2 separate regions of the Homo sapiens genome follow, and region 2 is linked to region 1. Evidence: fine-mapped expression QTL. A gene starts in region 1. The other region holds a variant in brackets. All regions are shown on one strand. Distances are from middle to middle. Region 1 holds the start of MIPOL1 (mirror-image polydactyly 1). Region 2 overlaps TTC6 (tetratricopeptide repeat domain 6).

Evidence for each region.
Region 2: its variant is fine-mapped to the expression of MIPOL1 in breast (GTEx, PIP 0.92).

What each region holds. Positions count from the first base shown.
Region 1 is chr14:37,194,177-37,202,517 of GRCh38, reverse strand. It overlaps MIPOL1 (mirror-image polydactyly 1), which reads right to left and starts at 4,581. Exons shown (of 13, transcript NM_001388067.1): 1 at 4,414-4,581.
Region 2 is chr14:37,656,808-37,665,148 of GRCh38, reverse strand. The region is part of intron 3 of TTC6 (tetratricopeptide repeat domain 6); the gene reads right to left. Among named protein-coding and RNA genes, the nearest start is that of TTC6, 65 kb to the right of the region's middle. The variant C/T (reference allele first, on the strand shown) is at 4,341.

The sequences.
Region 1 (8,341 bases):
ACTCCAAGCTGATTCAAGGAGTGCCATGAAAAACACGCATATGAACACAATTGCTTTGTGTGGGACTTATAAAGCAGGAAGGTATTTACATTAGTCATTGTGTGTGTGTTTGTGTGTGTGTGTGTGTGTGTGTAATGAAATGCAGTATGTACTGGATCCAGAATTTCTATATGAGAAAAGCTTACTTAACTGCAATGAATTGATAGTGGAAGGTGAGGCCCCTCTTAAATCTATCTGCATAACAATCAAGTAAGACTAAAAAAAACAATTATACATATCAAAGAAGGATCACACTGATGAAATTACCCTCACACCCTTCATTAGTATTAGCATATATCTAAATGTGCACTAAATTCACTTCTATAAATTACTTAAAAACAAGAAATGGGCTGGTGCAGTGGCTAATGCCTGTAATCCTGGCACTTTGGGAGGTCGAGGCAGGAGGACCTGAGGCCAGGGGTTGGATACTAGACCGGACAACAAAGGTAGACTCTGTCTCAACAAAAACAGAAAACAAAATAGCTAGGTGTGATGTTGAGCACCTGCAGTCCTATCTACTTGGGAGGTTGCAGCAGGGAAGACAGCTTGACCCCAGGTCAAGGTTACAGTGAGCTATGATTGCACCACTGTACTCCAGCCTGAGTGACAGAGCAAGATCCTGTTTCTAAAAGCAACAACAAGAACAACAACAAATACCTAGAAAGTGTTAGCTAAAAATGTTAACATGGATGGTGGGCTGAATGGTATTAAAGTAAAATTTTGGGCAATACTGAGCAAAAGGCAGGGGGCCAAGAGTAAAAGATGAACTGGGCAGCCCAAAGAGACATTTAAGGAAGAAAGGGCCTCCATCCTGGGAAGAGGTGTCACAGTTGAGCTTCACGGCCCAAGTCAATGGCTATTACGTCCTATATCATGAGTGTACTCAATCACTAGATAAAAATGTCAGAAAACCCAAGATGGAACAGCTCAAAGGACAAAATGCACCTTAAAATATTACAATAACTATATTATATATTTTTACATATTTTTACTCAAAATATCCAGAACTGTCTAGACATTCATCCTTTTCTTTCCTAGCCTTTTAAATAATATCAAAGAAAGACTGTCTCTTCTTTCTTTTCTCACTTCTTACCTGTCTTTTGTTCTTCAGATTTACAGGGTGAGAAGAAAGTGGGAGAAGTAAAAACAATTCAGACAAGAATCAAACTGGCCTCTAATTAGTCTTAAGGTAAAACTGGTAAACCAAATAAAGTATGTTTAGAGATCTGAAATCCAACACCAAAACACTATAACACATGCTGCTTTACAATACTGGCCAGGTGTGGTGGCTTGTGCCTGTAATCCCAGCATTTAGGGAGGCTGGGGAAGGAGGATCACTTGAGCTCAGGAGTTTAAAACCAGCCTGGGCAACATGGCAAAACCCCATCTCCACAAAAAAATATTAAAATTAGCCTGGGCATGTTGGTGTGTGCCTGTAACCCTAGCTACTTGGGAAGCCGAGGTGAGAGGATCACTTCAGCCCAGGAGGCAGAGGCTGCAGTGAACCGAGATCACCCCACTGCACTCCAGCCTGGGTGACAGAGGTACACCTTGTCTCAAAAAAAAAAAAAAAAAAAATACACACACACACACACACACACACACACACACACACACACACACACACATAGATAGATATAGTATTATGGATCTATATTTCTCTAATATAGCCCATCTCAGTTACTGATTTCACATCCAACCAATTGGCAAAAAATTGAACAAACATTTTTCAATAGAGCAGGGGTTAGTACGCTATGGCCCACAACTCAAATCCAGCCAGAGGACTGTGTTAAAAAAAAAAAAAAAAAAAAAAACTAACTGGGAAACCATTAGGTTGAGACAGCTCCAGCACTTTGGGTTCCTATGTAAACAAACCAAAACCCAACTCAATGTAAACAGTAAAACTAAACTTGAGTTTAATCAATCAGAAACCACCAAACAACTTCTAACTAGAGACATTCCACTGTTACCAATCAAATATTTTCTGTTTCCATAAACACCTTATAAAAGTTTTCCCCTCACACCCTCTTGGTGGAGTCTTGAATAACTTGTGGTCTGGTGATACCCAATTTATGAAATTGCTGAATGCTCATATAAACTCTAAAATTTCCATGTGCCTAAAGTTATCTTTTAACAACTGTTTTTGTATAACCCATGAGCTAAGAATTGTTTTTACATATTTAAAGGGTTGGGAACAAAGTAAAGAGGAAAAAAACAGAAAAGAATGTGTAACAGAGACTGTACAGCCTGTACAACCTAAAATACAGGTAGTCCGAGCTTCACACATTACTTGGTTAGCTGAAACTCTACAAAGCGAGGGCTGCCTACACTTATTGTCTGGTCCCTTACAGAAATAGAGGATATCCAAATGCCAGTAAACACATGAATATGTGTTCAATACCATCAGTCATTAGGGAAATTATGGGAAAACCCCAATGTTATGTCACTATATTCCTACTAGAATGGCTAAAATGAAAAAGACAGTGTGAAATGTTGCAAGCATTTGGAGGAACCAGAATTCTCAAGCTGCCACTGAAGTATAAATTGACACAATATGAAAAACTTTTCAGTAGTGTATACCACAAACACACATCTGCCTATCCTGTAACACAGTAATTTTCTAGTAGGCATATACGCAATAAAAATGTACATATGGCCAGGCGCGATGGTTCACACCTGTAATCCCAGCACTCTGGGATGCTGAGGCAGGTGGATCAGCTGAGGTCAGGAGTTTGAGACCAGCCTGACCAACAAGGTGAAACCCCGTCTTTACTAAAAATACAAAACTTAGCCAGGCGTGGTGGTAGGCACCTGTAGTCCCAGCTACTCGGGAGGCTGAGACAGGAGAATTGCTTGATCCCGGGAGGCGGAGGTTGCAGTAAGCCGAGATCGCGCCACTGCACTCCAGCCTTGGCGGCAGAGCGAGACTCCATCTCAAAAAAAAGAAGAAAAAAAAAAGTATACATAATTTCATCAAAATATTTCTAAAAATCTTTATAGCAGCCCTATTGGTAATAGCCAAAAACTAGAAATACTATACATACAGCATGAGAATAACAAACTGCTACATAACTTGAATAAATCTCACAAATAAAATATTGAGCAAAAATCAGAAACTAAGGACTAAATACCATATTACTCCATTTATATAAAGTAAATAATAGGTGAAATTCATTGATAATGTTGGAAGTCCAGATAATGATTACCTTTGGAACCATGAAGTGGGGCTTCCGGGATGCAATAATGCTCTTTCCTGATCTAGATACTGGATACATGGGTATTTACACTTTGTGAAAATTCACCGAGCTGTACACTTACGATTCATGCACTTTTCTGTATGTCTTTATACTTTAAATATTAACGCAATAAAAATATCTCTATAAACTCTACTCCTTTGAAGGAAAATTGTATACATCTCCCATTCATTTTGCTGATTGCCATCATTACCTCCCATCAATGACATGTCTTGATTCCTATTCCTCACATTAAAAATTAAACTGTTTTAATTAATTTTATTGGCATACGATTGCATAGAATGATTATGTAATTGTCATTTTAGATGAACTCCATACCAGATCACAAGGAAAAACTTTGAAACGCCAATAATTTGTGATAGTATATTCAAGTTATCTGGGGAAGAAAAGAACACCTCCTTGAAATGTAGTTTTGTTTGGCCCTTTGTTTTGGCTTATTTCTATCTACTACCACTGTGATTTAACCTGCATAAAATGCTCAAAGGAGCTTTTCCAAACGCGTGTGTTTGTGGAAAGTTGTTCCTTTCTACCATCCTTGTCTAATAATGCGGCTGTCTTGTTCCCTCCATCCATAGAGCTTAAAATGCTTCCCAAACGTTGCACCAGGTCCAGGGACATTGTGAATCAAAAAAGAAAAAAAAAAATTCTAACAGTATCTTTTTACAGCATGGCTTAGCGCGCTTAAAGAAGCCCCTCATTCTTCGCCCACACTTCCACGTGTGAGAAATGAAATATAAAACGACTCTCTCATGGGCACAGAGTCGATCAGAGGTTGAGCGAGGACTGGAACCTTCTGACTAACCGCGACTTAAGGGGAAAAAAACAAAAAAAATACACCCTTGAATAAATGCTCAGCTGCTCAGGTCCAGTATTAGGAAACTGGAGACAATACCAAAACCATACCCAGAAAGAGCTGTCTGCCACCTGAGGACCCCACGACACTGACCTTCGAGAGAGCCCCATCACTCCCGGCCACGCGGGGTCAGCATTCACTAAGTACAGATTCCGCGGGGCCCCTTCTCCTTCTCCAAGGAAAAGTCTGCGGCCGAAAACTCCAGGGCTGATCTGTGCCCACCACTATCATTCTCCGTCGCCCAAACCTCCCTGCCCAACCGTTTACCTGAGATGCGCCTGGCATAGACCGGGGAGTCGACACTGCGCGCTTGCCGAGTTTCTCAGGCCGAGTGCGCAGCCACCGCGTCAGCCAATCGCCACTGGCTCAGAGCCTCCTGGCTCGAGACTCACCCACAGACGATCCGGCGGAGGAGCGGGGCGGCGCGTGGGGCCTACGGGGCGGCGGCGCGCCGCAGGGGAGAGCGCAAGCGGCGAGCACCGGGCATGCGCGTGCCGCGCTGCCGGGCCGCGAGGCGGGGCCTCCAGGAGAAAGAGAGAGCTTGGGAAGAAGGCCCGGGAGGAGTTTGGAGAGAAAGTAGTCGAACTTAGTCTGCTGCGGTGGTTGCCCTAACGGGATGCTTATGGTTGTCGAATCCAAGACGACGAGCGCAGAACGCTCTTTCTCTTCTGAAAGAGCAAAACGTTGTCTGGACAAAACCTAATAGGATTAGAAGAGGGAGAACGCGGAACTAAAAACGGTGTCTTGTGGCCTCATACTTGGCCTCGTCGAGTTTTCCCAAGACCTGTCGAAATTGTGCTTTCCTTCTTTGTGTGTGGTTTGGGATGAGAGGTGGGAGGGACGTGTTTCGAAGCGGCGGTCAAGTGAAAATGGCACCAGATCGGGCTCCGGTTGAGTGAGCAAAAGTACTATCTAGATCCTGGCCAAAGAACGTTTCACACTAAAACCTTGGAGCTGGTGACTTTTTTTTTTTTTTTTTTTTTTGACTGAAGTGCTGGATGAGATTACGATATGTGAATCCTCTAAGAAAAAATGTTAAACCTTACAGAATTTAAAAATGTCCAAAGTTTTCAATTGGCCTACCTCCGTGAACTAAGAATGGTATAATTAACTGCTAGTAATTTAAATTTGGGTTTTTTGTTCCATAGTTCAGAATTGGTTTTATAAATGTCACTTTAACTCCTGTTACTCATGATTCCTTCAGACACCAAATACTTAGTGACCACATACCATGTGCCAGGTACTCTTCTGGGTGCTGAGTAATAAGCAATAATATTTTTTAATACACCCCAGAGAATAGGCATAATATGAGGTGCTGACGGGTTCCTAAATTTGTGGTTAAAGTTAATGAAAGGAACTTATCCTTTAGTAAGTGTACAAAAGAGAGTTTAAAAAACTGAAAAAGGCCGGGCGCGGTGGCTTACGCCTGTAGTCCCAACACTTTGGAAGGCTGAGGCAGTGGGATCGCTTGAGCCCAGGAGTTCGAGACCAGCCTGGACAACATGGCGAGACCTTGACTTTATTAAAAATCAAAAAAATTAGCTGGGCATGATGGTGCATACCCGTAGTCCCAGCTACTAGGGAGGATGAGGTGGGAGAATCGCTTGAGCCCCAGAGGTGGAGACTGAAATAAGCTACGATGGCTGGCGCCACTGCACCCCAGCCTGGGGGACAGAGCATGACGCTGTGAAAACTAACAAAATGGAAAAGTTGGACGTAGATTAACTTGGAACAACAGAGGTTATAATATTCACCAAATTTTCGTTATGTATGCTGTAATGAACAGTGTTCTCAAGAAGTTTGTTACAGATTCAGCTTTGAAATGCTTTTTTCTTTTTTGCTTTACTTCAGTCAGGATTTGAATCATATTTATGAACATAAAGTACCATAAAAATCTATGAGACAAAAACAAAGAGTGTACAGTTTATCAGAGCAAATACTCCAATCAGGAAGTATATAGCTTGTGCAAAGGCTTAGGGCCAAATCAAATTATGTGTAAAACAAAGGAAAAAGTTGATTTTCCTGGCTAGGAAATAATAAATAAAACAGGATAGTGACTACCACAATGAGAACATTCAAACCATGTAATGAATTAGTAGAATAAATTTAGAGAAAAATTATAATATTTTTCATTGAGTAAAGTTCATTTCCTCCTTTTTTTAAAGCCCATTATCTGGGTGCTTACAGTCTCTGGCATAAAGAGAAACCTCATATTTTCTTTCCTTTTAGTAAGCTGATTTTCTCTCTCTCTCTCTCTGTTTTATGCAGTGAGTTCAAACATTAGGACTAATTCTCCCTATTCTTTTTCCTTTTTCCCTAACATACCTGAAGTAACTCATTAATGTTCTTTCCCTAAACTTTTGATACCACAACAGGTAAGTTTTCCCCTACTCCCCTCCACCACCACCATAACCAACATATCCATTTCTTCATTTTCTATTGTTCTAACAGTTGCCTGTCTATAAGAAATGAAAGAGATAAATTAGAGCTTTTTTCTTTTCTCAAAATGATTATCAAAGATATTGTCTATGTCCTCATACCTCATACAAGCTGGACTTTTACAGAAATATGGATGAAGATGAGAAGAAGAAAATGAACCACTCTTTCGTTACAGGGAGAAAAAGAATGTCATATTATTAATATTATCAAGTCTGTTAATGTCAGATCATTAATATTCTCAAGTCTATAAATATTAGGCTTCTGCAGTGTGTCACACACTGATCAGTTCTGCAAATAAAATAATGAATAACAATTAGGCACACAAGTAGCTGAGAATACCATATGTATTAATCAGGGTTCTCCAGAGAAACAGAACAAACAGGATATGTGTGTATACACAGAGACTACATAGAGAGAGGGACAGTGATTTATTGTAAGGAAATGGCTCATGCAGTTGTGGACTTTTAGTGAGTCCAAAATCTGAGGGAAGAGGCGGGCAAGCCTCAGAAAAGAATTGTAGTTGGACATACATGGAATGTAATCTGTTGTATTCAAAGTCTGGTGATTTAAATGGTAATCTCATCAAAAAAACACCTTCACAGAAGCATCCAGGATAACGTTTCACCAAATATCTGTGCACCATGGCCCAGCCAAGTTGACAAAATTAACCATCACACTGTGTAAACTGAGAAATGGCTTTGGGAGAGGGGAGTTCAGGGGATGAGGAAGACAGAGTCAGGAAAATCTGAAGGAGATAATGCCTCCTGTAGTATGAATAAGACTTAGCAAGGTGAAGAGGTGAGGGTGGAGGTGCAGAGAAAACAGAATTCCTTATAAAGGAATCAATATGGGAGTGAGATACTGTAAGGAGCTATAAGCAATTTAATATCACAGTATAAAATTTAACATGGAAAGTGGTGGGAAATGAAGTTGGAGAGATTATGAAAGGTCTTTTTTAAAAATAGAGTTGGGGACTCACTATGTTGCTGGGGCTGGTATCAAAGTCCTGGCCTCAAGCAGTCCTCCCACTTTGGCCTCCCAAAGTGCTCGGATTACATGCATGAGTCACCATGCCAGGCAATATAAATGATCTCCTAATTAAGTACCTTGGACTTGATTCTATAGTCAATGAATTTTGAAAGTTAAAACAGGAGTGATGAGATTAGATTTACACTTTCATTCATCAATTTAGAAATACGTTTCAGAATCAAAATTCTCAAGTTTGCAAGACTAGTTAATCTAATTGAAAAACGATAAAAAGGCTGGGCTCTGTGGCTCATGCCTGTAACCCCAGCACTTTGGGAGGCTGAGGTGGGTGGATCACTTGAGGCTAGGAGTTGGAGACCACCCTATCCAACATGGTGGGACCTCCCCCCACCGTCTCTACTAAAAATACAAAAAATAGCCAGGCATGGTGGCACATGTCTGTAATCCCAGCTACTCAGGAAGCTGAAGCATGAGAATCACTTGAACCAGGAGGTGGAGGTTGCAGTGAGCTGAGATTGTACCACTGCACTCTAGCCTGGGTGACAGAGTTAGACCCTGTCTCAAAAAATAAATAAATAAATAAATAAATAATAAAATGTATGTGGTAAAGCACGATAGATGGAAAAGGGTAGCTTGAAGAAGTAGGAAATAGTTTGCAAAATCTGGTAAATAACTAGTTGAGAAAGAGGAAAGTGTTGATGGTATTAAAGAAATTGGTGAATAAGTAAGTTCAGTTTTGATAGAATGAGTTTGAATTGCTAGGGAAGCA
Region 2 (8,341 bases), 460 kb before region 1:
CCCCGTAATGGGATTGCTGGGTCAAATGGTATTTCTGCCTCAAGCTATTTGAGGAATTGCCACACTGTCTTCCACAATGGTTGAACTAATTTATACTCCCACCAACAGTGTAAAAGTATTGCTTTTTCTCCACAACCTCTCCAGCAACTGTTGTTTTTTGACTTTTTAATAATAGCCATTCTAACTGGCATGAGATGATATCTCATTGTGGTTCTGATTTTCATTTCTCTAATAATCAGTAAGGTTGAGCTCTTTTCCATAAGTTTGCTGGCCACAAGTATGTCTTCTTTTGAGAAATGTCTGCTCATGTCCTTTACCCACTTTTTAATGGGGTTGTTTGTTTTTTTCTTGTAGATTTAAGTTCCTGATAAGCTCTGGATATTGGACTTTTGTCAGATGGATAGATTGCAAAAATTTTCCCCAATTTTGTAGGTTGTCTGTTCACTCTGATTATAGTTTCTTTTGCTGTGGAATAGCTGTTTAGTTTAATTAGATCCCATTTGTCAATGTTTGCTTTTGTTGCAATTGCTTTTGGCATTTTCATCTTGAAATCTTTGCCCATACCTCTATCCTGATGATACTGCCTAGATTTTCTTCTAGGGTCTTTGTAGTTTGGGGTTTTACATTTAAGTCTTTAATCCATCTTGAGTTAATTTTTGTATATGGTGTGAGGAAAGGGTCCAGTTTCAATTTTCTACATATGGATAACCACTTCTCCTGGTGCCATTTATTAAATAGGGATTCTTTTCTCCATTGCTTCTTGTTGTCAGCTTTGTCAAAGATCTGATGGTTGTAGGTGCGACGTCTCATTTCTGAGCTCTCTATTCTGTTCTATTCATCTATGTGTCTGTTCTTGTACCAGTACCATGCTGTTGTGGTTACTGTAGCCTTTAGTATAGTTTGAAATTGGGCAGTGTGATGCCTCCAGCCTTATTCTTTTCACTTAGGATTGCCTTGGCTACATGGGCTCTTTTTTTGTTCCACATGAGCTTTAAAATAGCTTTTTCTAATTCTGTGAAGAATGTCAATGGTAGTTTAATGGGAATAGCATTAAATCTATAAATTACTTTGGGCAGTATGGCCATTTTCACAATATTGATTCTTCCTATCCATGAGCAAGAAATGTTTCTCCATTTGTTTGGGTCATCTCTGATTTCTTTGAGCAGTGGTTTATAGTTCTCCTTGAAGAGGTCCTTCACTTCCCTTATTAGCTATAGTCCTAGGTATTTATTCTTTCTGTAGCAATTGTGAATGGGAGTTCATTCATTATTTGGCTCTCTGCTTGCCTGTTGTTGGTGTACAAGAATGCTAGCAACTTTTGCACACTGATTTTGTGTCCTGAGAATTTGCTGAAGTTGCTTATCAATGTAAGAAGCTTTTGGTCTGAGACAACAGGGTTTTTTAAAGTAAGTGCTGATTTGGGAACATGACCTCCTCATCACATGAACCTCATACTAACTTTCATCATAGCAGTGTTTGATTTTTCAAAGACAGCCAACTGTGACACAACACCAATATTTTCTCAAAATCTTTGTAACTGGCATAACTAATAAGGTAAAAAAGTTTGAATTTGATAGTATGAGTAGGATAATTGGGGATGAACACTTCAAATTAACTCACAAATCTTGATAACTTATCATAATAAATAATGTTTAAAAAAATGTAACTGTGCAATACAATGATTGATTACATTTTTGTAAGGCAAAAGACCCAAATTTTAGAGTGAAAGCACAGATATATTCTCAAAAACATCATTTGAGTTTCCACAGTCATTTAATTTTGTATACATTTCAAAAATGAAGGTGAAATAAAGACTTTTTCAGTATATCTAGAAAAACCCATAATCTCAATCCAAAAGCTCCTTCAGCTGACAACTTCAGCAAAGTTTCAGGATACACAATCAACGCACAAAATTCACCAGGAATGTACAAAAATCACCAACAACAGTCATGCCAAGAAATAAGCCAGGAATGCAATCCCATTCACCGTTACCACAAAAAAAATAAAATGCCTAGGAATACAGGAATACAGCTAACCAGGGAGGTGAAAGAGCTCTACAATGAGAATTACAAAACATTGCTCAAAGAAATCAGAGATGACAAAAACAAACGGAAAAACATTCCATGCTCATGGATAAAAAAAAAATCAATATCATTAAAATGGCCATACTGCCCAAAACAATTTGCAGATTCAATGGTATGACTATCAAACTATTAATGACATTCTTCACAGAACTAGGGAAAAACTATTTTAAAATCCACACGGAACCAAAAAAGAGCCCAAATAGCCAAGGCAATCCTAAGCAAGTTGCTACCCAACTTCAAACTATACTACAGGGCTACAGTAAACAAAACTGCATAGTACTGATACAAAAACAGGCACATAGACTAATGAAACAGAATAGAGAGCCCAGAAATATGGCCACACACCTACAACCATCTGATCTTCAACAAAGCTAACAACAAGAAGCGATGGGGAAAGGACTCCCTATTCAATAAATGGTGCTGGGAGAACTGGCTAGCCATATGGAGAAGACTGAAGCTGGACCCCTTCCTTTCACCATATACAAAAATCAATTCAAGACAGAGTAAAGACTTAAATGTAAAATCCAAAACTATAAAAACCCTAGAAGACCACGATCAAGTTGGCTTCAGTCCCAGGATGCAAGGCTGGTTCAACATACGCAAATCAATAAACGTAATTCATCATATAAACAGATCTAAAGACAAAAACCATGTGATTATCTCAATAGACGCAGAAAAGGCCTTAAATAAAAGTCAACATATCTTCATGTTTAAAACTCTCAATAAACAAAGTATTGAAGGAACATATCTCAAAATAATAAAAGCCATTTATGATAAACCCACAGCCAATATCATACTGAATGGGCAAAGCTGGGAGCATTTCCTTTGAAAACTGGCACAAGACAAGGATGCCCTCTCTCACCACTCCTATTTAACATAGTATTGGAAGTTCTGGCCAGGGCAATCAGGCAAAAGAACAAAATAAAGCATATTTAAATAGGAAGGGAGGATGTCAAATTGTCTTTGTTTGCAGATGACATGATCCTATATCTAGAAAACCCCATCTTCTAAGCCCAAAAGCTTCTTAAGCCGATAAGCAACTTCAGCAAAATCAGTGCGCAAAAATTGCTAGCATTCCTGTACACCAACAACACACAAGTGGAGAGCCAAATCATGAATGAACTCCCATTCACAATTGCTACAAAGAGAATAAAATACCTAGGAATACAGCTAACAAGGGAAGTGAAGGGCCTCTTCAAGGAGAACTACAAACCACTGCTTAAGGAAACCAGAGAGGACACAAGCAAATGGAAAAATATTCCATGCTCATAAGAAGAATCAATATCGTGAAAATGGTCATACTGCCCAAAGTAATTTATAGATTTAATGCTATTCCCATTAAACTACCATTGAAATTCTTCACAGAATTAGAAAAAAACTATTTTAAAGTTCATATGGAACCAAAAAAGAGCCCATATAGCCAAGACAATTCTAAGAGAAAAGAACAAAGCTGGAGGCATCTTGCTACCAGACTTCAAACTATACTATAAGGCTGCAATAACCAAAACAGCATGGTACTGGTACAAAAACAGACACATAGACCAATGGAACAGAATAGAGAACTCAGAATTAAGATAGTACAGCTACAAGCATCTAATCTTCAACAAACCTTACAAAAACAAGCAATGAGAAAAGGATTCCCTATTCAATAAATGGTGCTAGGAGAACTGGCTATCCATTTGCAGAAAATTGAAACTGGACCCCTTCCTCAAACCTTGGATGGATTAAAGATTTAAATGTAAAATCCCAAACTATAAAGATCCTAGAAGAGAATCTAGGCAATACCATTCAGGACATAGGCATGGGCAAAGATTGTATGGCAAAGACATGAAAAGCAATTGCAACAAAAGCAAAAATTGACAAACGGGATCTAATTAAACTAAAGAGCTTATGCACAGCAAAAGAAACTGTCATCAGAGTGAACAGGCAACCTACAGAGTGGGAGAAAATTTCTGCAATCTACCTATCCAACAAAGGTTTAATATCCAGAATCTACAAAGGAACTCAAACAAATTTACAAGAAAAAAACAAACAACCCTATTAAAAAGTGGGAAAAGGACATGAACAGACATTTCTTAAAAGAAGACATTCATGTAGCCAGCAAACATATGAAAAAGGCTCAACATCACTGATCATTAGAGAAATGCAAATCAAAACCACAATAAGATACCATCTCATGCCAGTCAGAACGGCCAGTATTAAAAAGTCAAGAAACAACAGATTCTGGCACAGCTGTGGAGAAATGGGAACGTTTTA[C/T]ACCATTGGTGGGAGTGTAAATTAGTTCAACCATTGAACAGTGTGGCAATTCCTCAAAGATCTAGAACCAGAAATACCATTTGACCCAGCAATCCCACTATGAGGTATATACCCAAAGCAATATAAATCATTCTATTACAAAGGTACATGCACACAAATGTTCACTGCAGCACTGTCCACAATAGCAAAGACATGGAATCAATCTAAATGCTCATCAGTGATGGACTGGATAAAGAAAATGTGGTACATATACACCATGGAATACTACGCAGCCAGGCTGGAAGCCATTATCCTCAGCAAACTAACGCAGTAATAGAAAACCAAATATACCACATATTCTCAGTTGTAAGTGGAAGCTGAACAATAAGAACACATGGACACAGAGAGGGGAACAACACACACTGGGGCCTGTCCAGGGGTGAGGTGTGGGGGAGAGCATTAGGAAAAATAACTAATGCATGATGGGCTTAATACCTAAGTGATGGGTTGACAGGTGCAGCAAACCACTGTGGCACACGTTTACCTACATAACAAACCTGCACATCCTGCACACGTATCCCAGAACTAAAAATTAAAATTAAAAAAAAAACCCTGGAAGACAACCTAGGCAATACCATCCTAGACATAGGAACGGCCAAAGATTTCATGATGACAATGCCAAAAGTAATTGCAGCCAAAACAAAAATTGACAAATAAGATCTAATTAAACCTAAGAGCTTCTACACAGCAAAGGAAATTATAAACAGAGTGAACAGACAACCTACCGAATGAGAGAAAATTTTTGCAAACTATGCATCTGGCAAAGGTCTAATATGTAGCATCTATAAGGAACTTAAACAAATTTCCAAGAAAAAGCAAACGGCTCTATTAAAAAGTGGGCAAATGACATGAACAGACACTTCTCAAAAGAAGACACAGATGCAGCCAATGAGCTTATGAAAAAAAATTTACTAACCATTAGAGAAACGCAAATCAAAACCACAACGAAGGCCAAGCGCGGTGGGTCACATCCGTAATCCCAACACTTTGGGAGGCCAAGGTGGGCGGATCACCTGAGGTCAGGAGTTCGAGACCAGCCTGACCCACATGGAGAAACCCTGTATCTACTAAAAATACAAAAATTAGCTGGACATGGTAGCATGTGCCTGTAATCCCAGTTGTTCGGGAGGCTGGGCAGGAGAATCGCTTGAACCTGGGAGGTTGCAGTGAGCCAAGATTGTGCCATTGCACTCCAGCCTGGGCAACAAGAGTGAAACTCCATCTCAAAATTAAAATAAAATAAAATAAAATAAAATAAAACGACAACGAGATACCATCTCATATCAGTCAGAATGGCTATTATTAAAAAAGTCGAAAAAATAACAGATGCTGGAGAGGTTGTGGAGAAAAAGGAACACATATACACTGTTGGCAGGAGTGTAAATTAGTTCAACTATTGTGGAAAGCAGTGTGGCAATTCCTCAAAGAGCTAAAAACAGAACTACCATTCAACCCAGCAATCCCATTTAGGTTGTTACATACCCAGAGGAATATAAATCATTCTACCATGAAGATACATGCACACAAATGTCCATTACAGCACTATTAACAATAGCAAATACATGGAATCAACCTAAATGTCCATCAATGGTAGAGTGAATAAAGAAAATGTGGTACGTATATACCATGAAATACTATGCAGCCATAAAAAAAAATAATAAGATCATGTCTTTTGTGGGAGCATGGATGGAGCTGGAGGCCATTATCCTTAGCAAACGAATACAGGAACAGAAAAACAAATACCACATATTCTCACTTGTAAGTTGGAGCTAAATTACACAAAGGAAGGAACTCATGGACACAAGGGAGCAACAGATACTGGGGCCTACTTGAGGGTGAAGGGTGGGAGGAGGGAGAGGAGCAGAAAAAAATAACTATTGAGTACTAGGCTTAGTACCTGGGTGATGAAATAATCTGTACAACAAATCCCCATGACGTGAGTTTATCTGTATAATGAACCTGCATACGCACCCCTGAACCTAAAATAAAAAAATTTTTAAAGGCTTTTTCAGACATTTTACTTACCCAGGACTTTTCTTTTCTTTCTTGTTTAAATGTATGGTGTGTAAATGTAGTTTTTGCTATGTGCATAGATTGTGTAGAAGTCAAGGCTTTTAAGGTATCTTTCACCCAAATAACCCAATGTACTCATTAAGTAATTTCTTATCCTCCATTTCCTGCCAACCCTCTCACCCTGCCAAGTCTCCACTGTCTGTCATTCCATACACTACATCCATGTGTGTACATTATTCAGCTCCCAGCTACCCAGGGCTTTTCTAAAAGTAGAAAACCAAAAGATCAGACAAACCCAAAATGCCCACACCAGGCCCCCACCACCTCACACACACTTTCAAGTAACAATGGCCAATGTCCTCATGGTCTCTCCTTTGTTCCAAAGAGAAAACCCTGATCCCATAAAATGACTAACAGACTCTTTCTTTCACAGTGTAATGTAAATAAGTGTTGGCAAAGGAAGGGCCCACAGACCAAATCTGGCTCACCACCTGTTTTTGTTTGGCCTATAAGCTAAGAACAGTTCTTTTATATTTTAATGGTGTTTTTTAAAAAGAAGAATATTTCATAAGTGAGAATAATTACATGAAATTTAAATTTCCATATCCATTAATAATGTTTTGAATTTCATCAATTAAAAATTTGTGGAAATTATTTTCTCTCTTGTTATATAAGTGCCTAAATACTATCCTTGATTTTGTCTCCTGGTTCAACAAAGCTTAAACTATTTACTATTTAGCTCTTTACAGAAAAAGTCTGGCCATCCTTGATGTAAATGACAAATAATAAAAAAGTACCTCTCTTTGGAACAAATGCATCTCTAAAATGAACCAAAGGAATGAATTTTTCATCCTGCAAGGTCAGACAAAAATGTTTTTAACGGTTGGTACATACAAAAAAAATCAAACTCTCTCCTTTATGTAATAGAGTTACATGGGCTATGCTGATTTTATCACTCTGTTTCATACCAGGTTGTTTGAAAAACAAGATAAATTGGCATCTTCCTCCAAAATTAATTTCATTTAGAATTTAGGCCTAAGAATTAAGCAACCACTCTGCTCTTCCTCTCTACTTTAACTTGATTTTTTATTAAAATACTATTTTACTACATTATCATCTTTGAAAGAAATCTACTTAATAATAGTGTATTAAATAATTTTCAATTCATAAAGCCAACAAATAAGCTTTTCATTTTTCTTTGTAGATTGTTCACACCATTCACATTAGGATATTCAGTCCCCCAGAGACACCAGGCCCTTTCTTGGCTCGGCGTCCTCGTTTATGCTTTTCTCCCACTCAGGAATTCACTTCCCAAACACTCTCCTGGGTAGTTCCCCACGCAGCACAGGAAGATAAGAAAGATTTTTTTGTTTTATTTGATGGAAATGGTCTTTTTTTTTTTTTTTTAAATAGAAAGCTTCCAAAACTTCCACACCTTTTGAAAACTATTTTTTATTAAAATGCCACTCCTTAAACACTCACTCAGAATTTATTGATCCCACAACACATTACTTGTATTTTTTTTTTTTTTTTTTTTTTTTTTTGAGACAGAGTTTCGCTCATGTTGCCCAGGCTGGAGTACAACTGCGCAATCGCGACTCACTGCAACCTCCGCCTCCCGGATTCAAGCGGTTCTCCTGCCTCAGCCTGCCGAGTAGCTGGGGCTACCGGTATGCGCCACTACGCCTGGCTAATTTTTTAGTATTTTTAATAGAGACGGGGTTTCGCCATGTTGGCCAGGCTGGTCTAGAACGCCTGACCTCAGGTGATCCACCCGCCTCGGCCTCCCAAAATGCCAGGATTACAGGCGTGAGCCACCACTCCTGGCCACATTACTTGTACTTCTATTTGGCATTTAGGTTGTTATACATTTAGGCTACTAGAATGTGCTTTTAGGATCAACCACCCCTAGTTCCTTGCAGATTTCAAGAAGGTACTTCTCGCCTGGT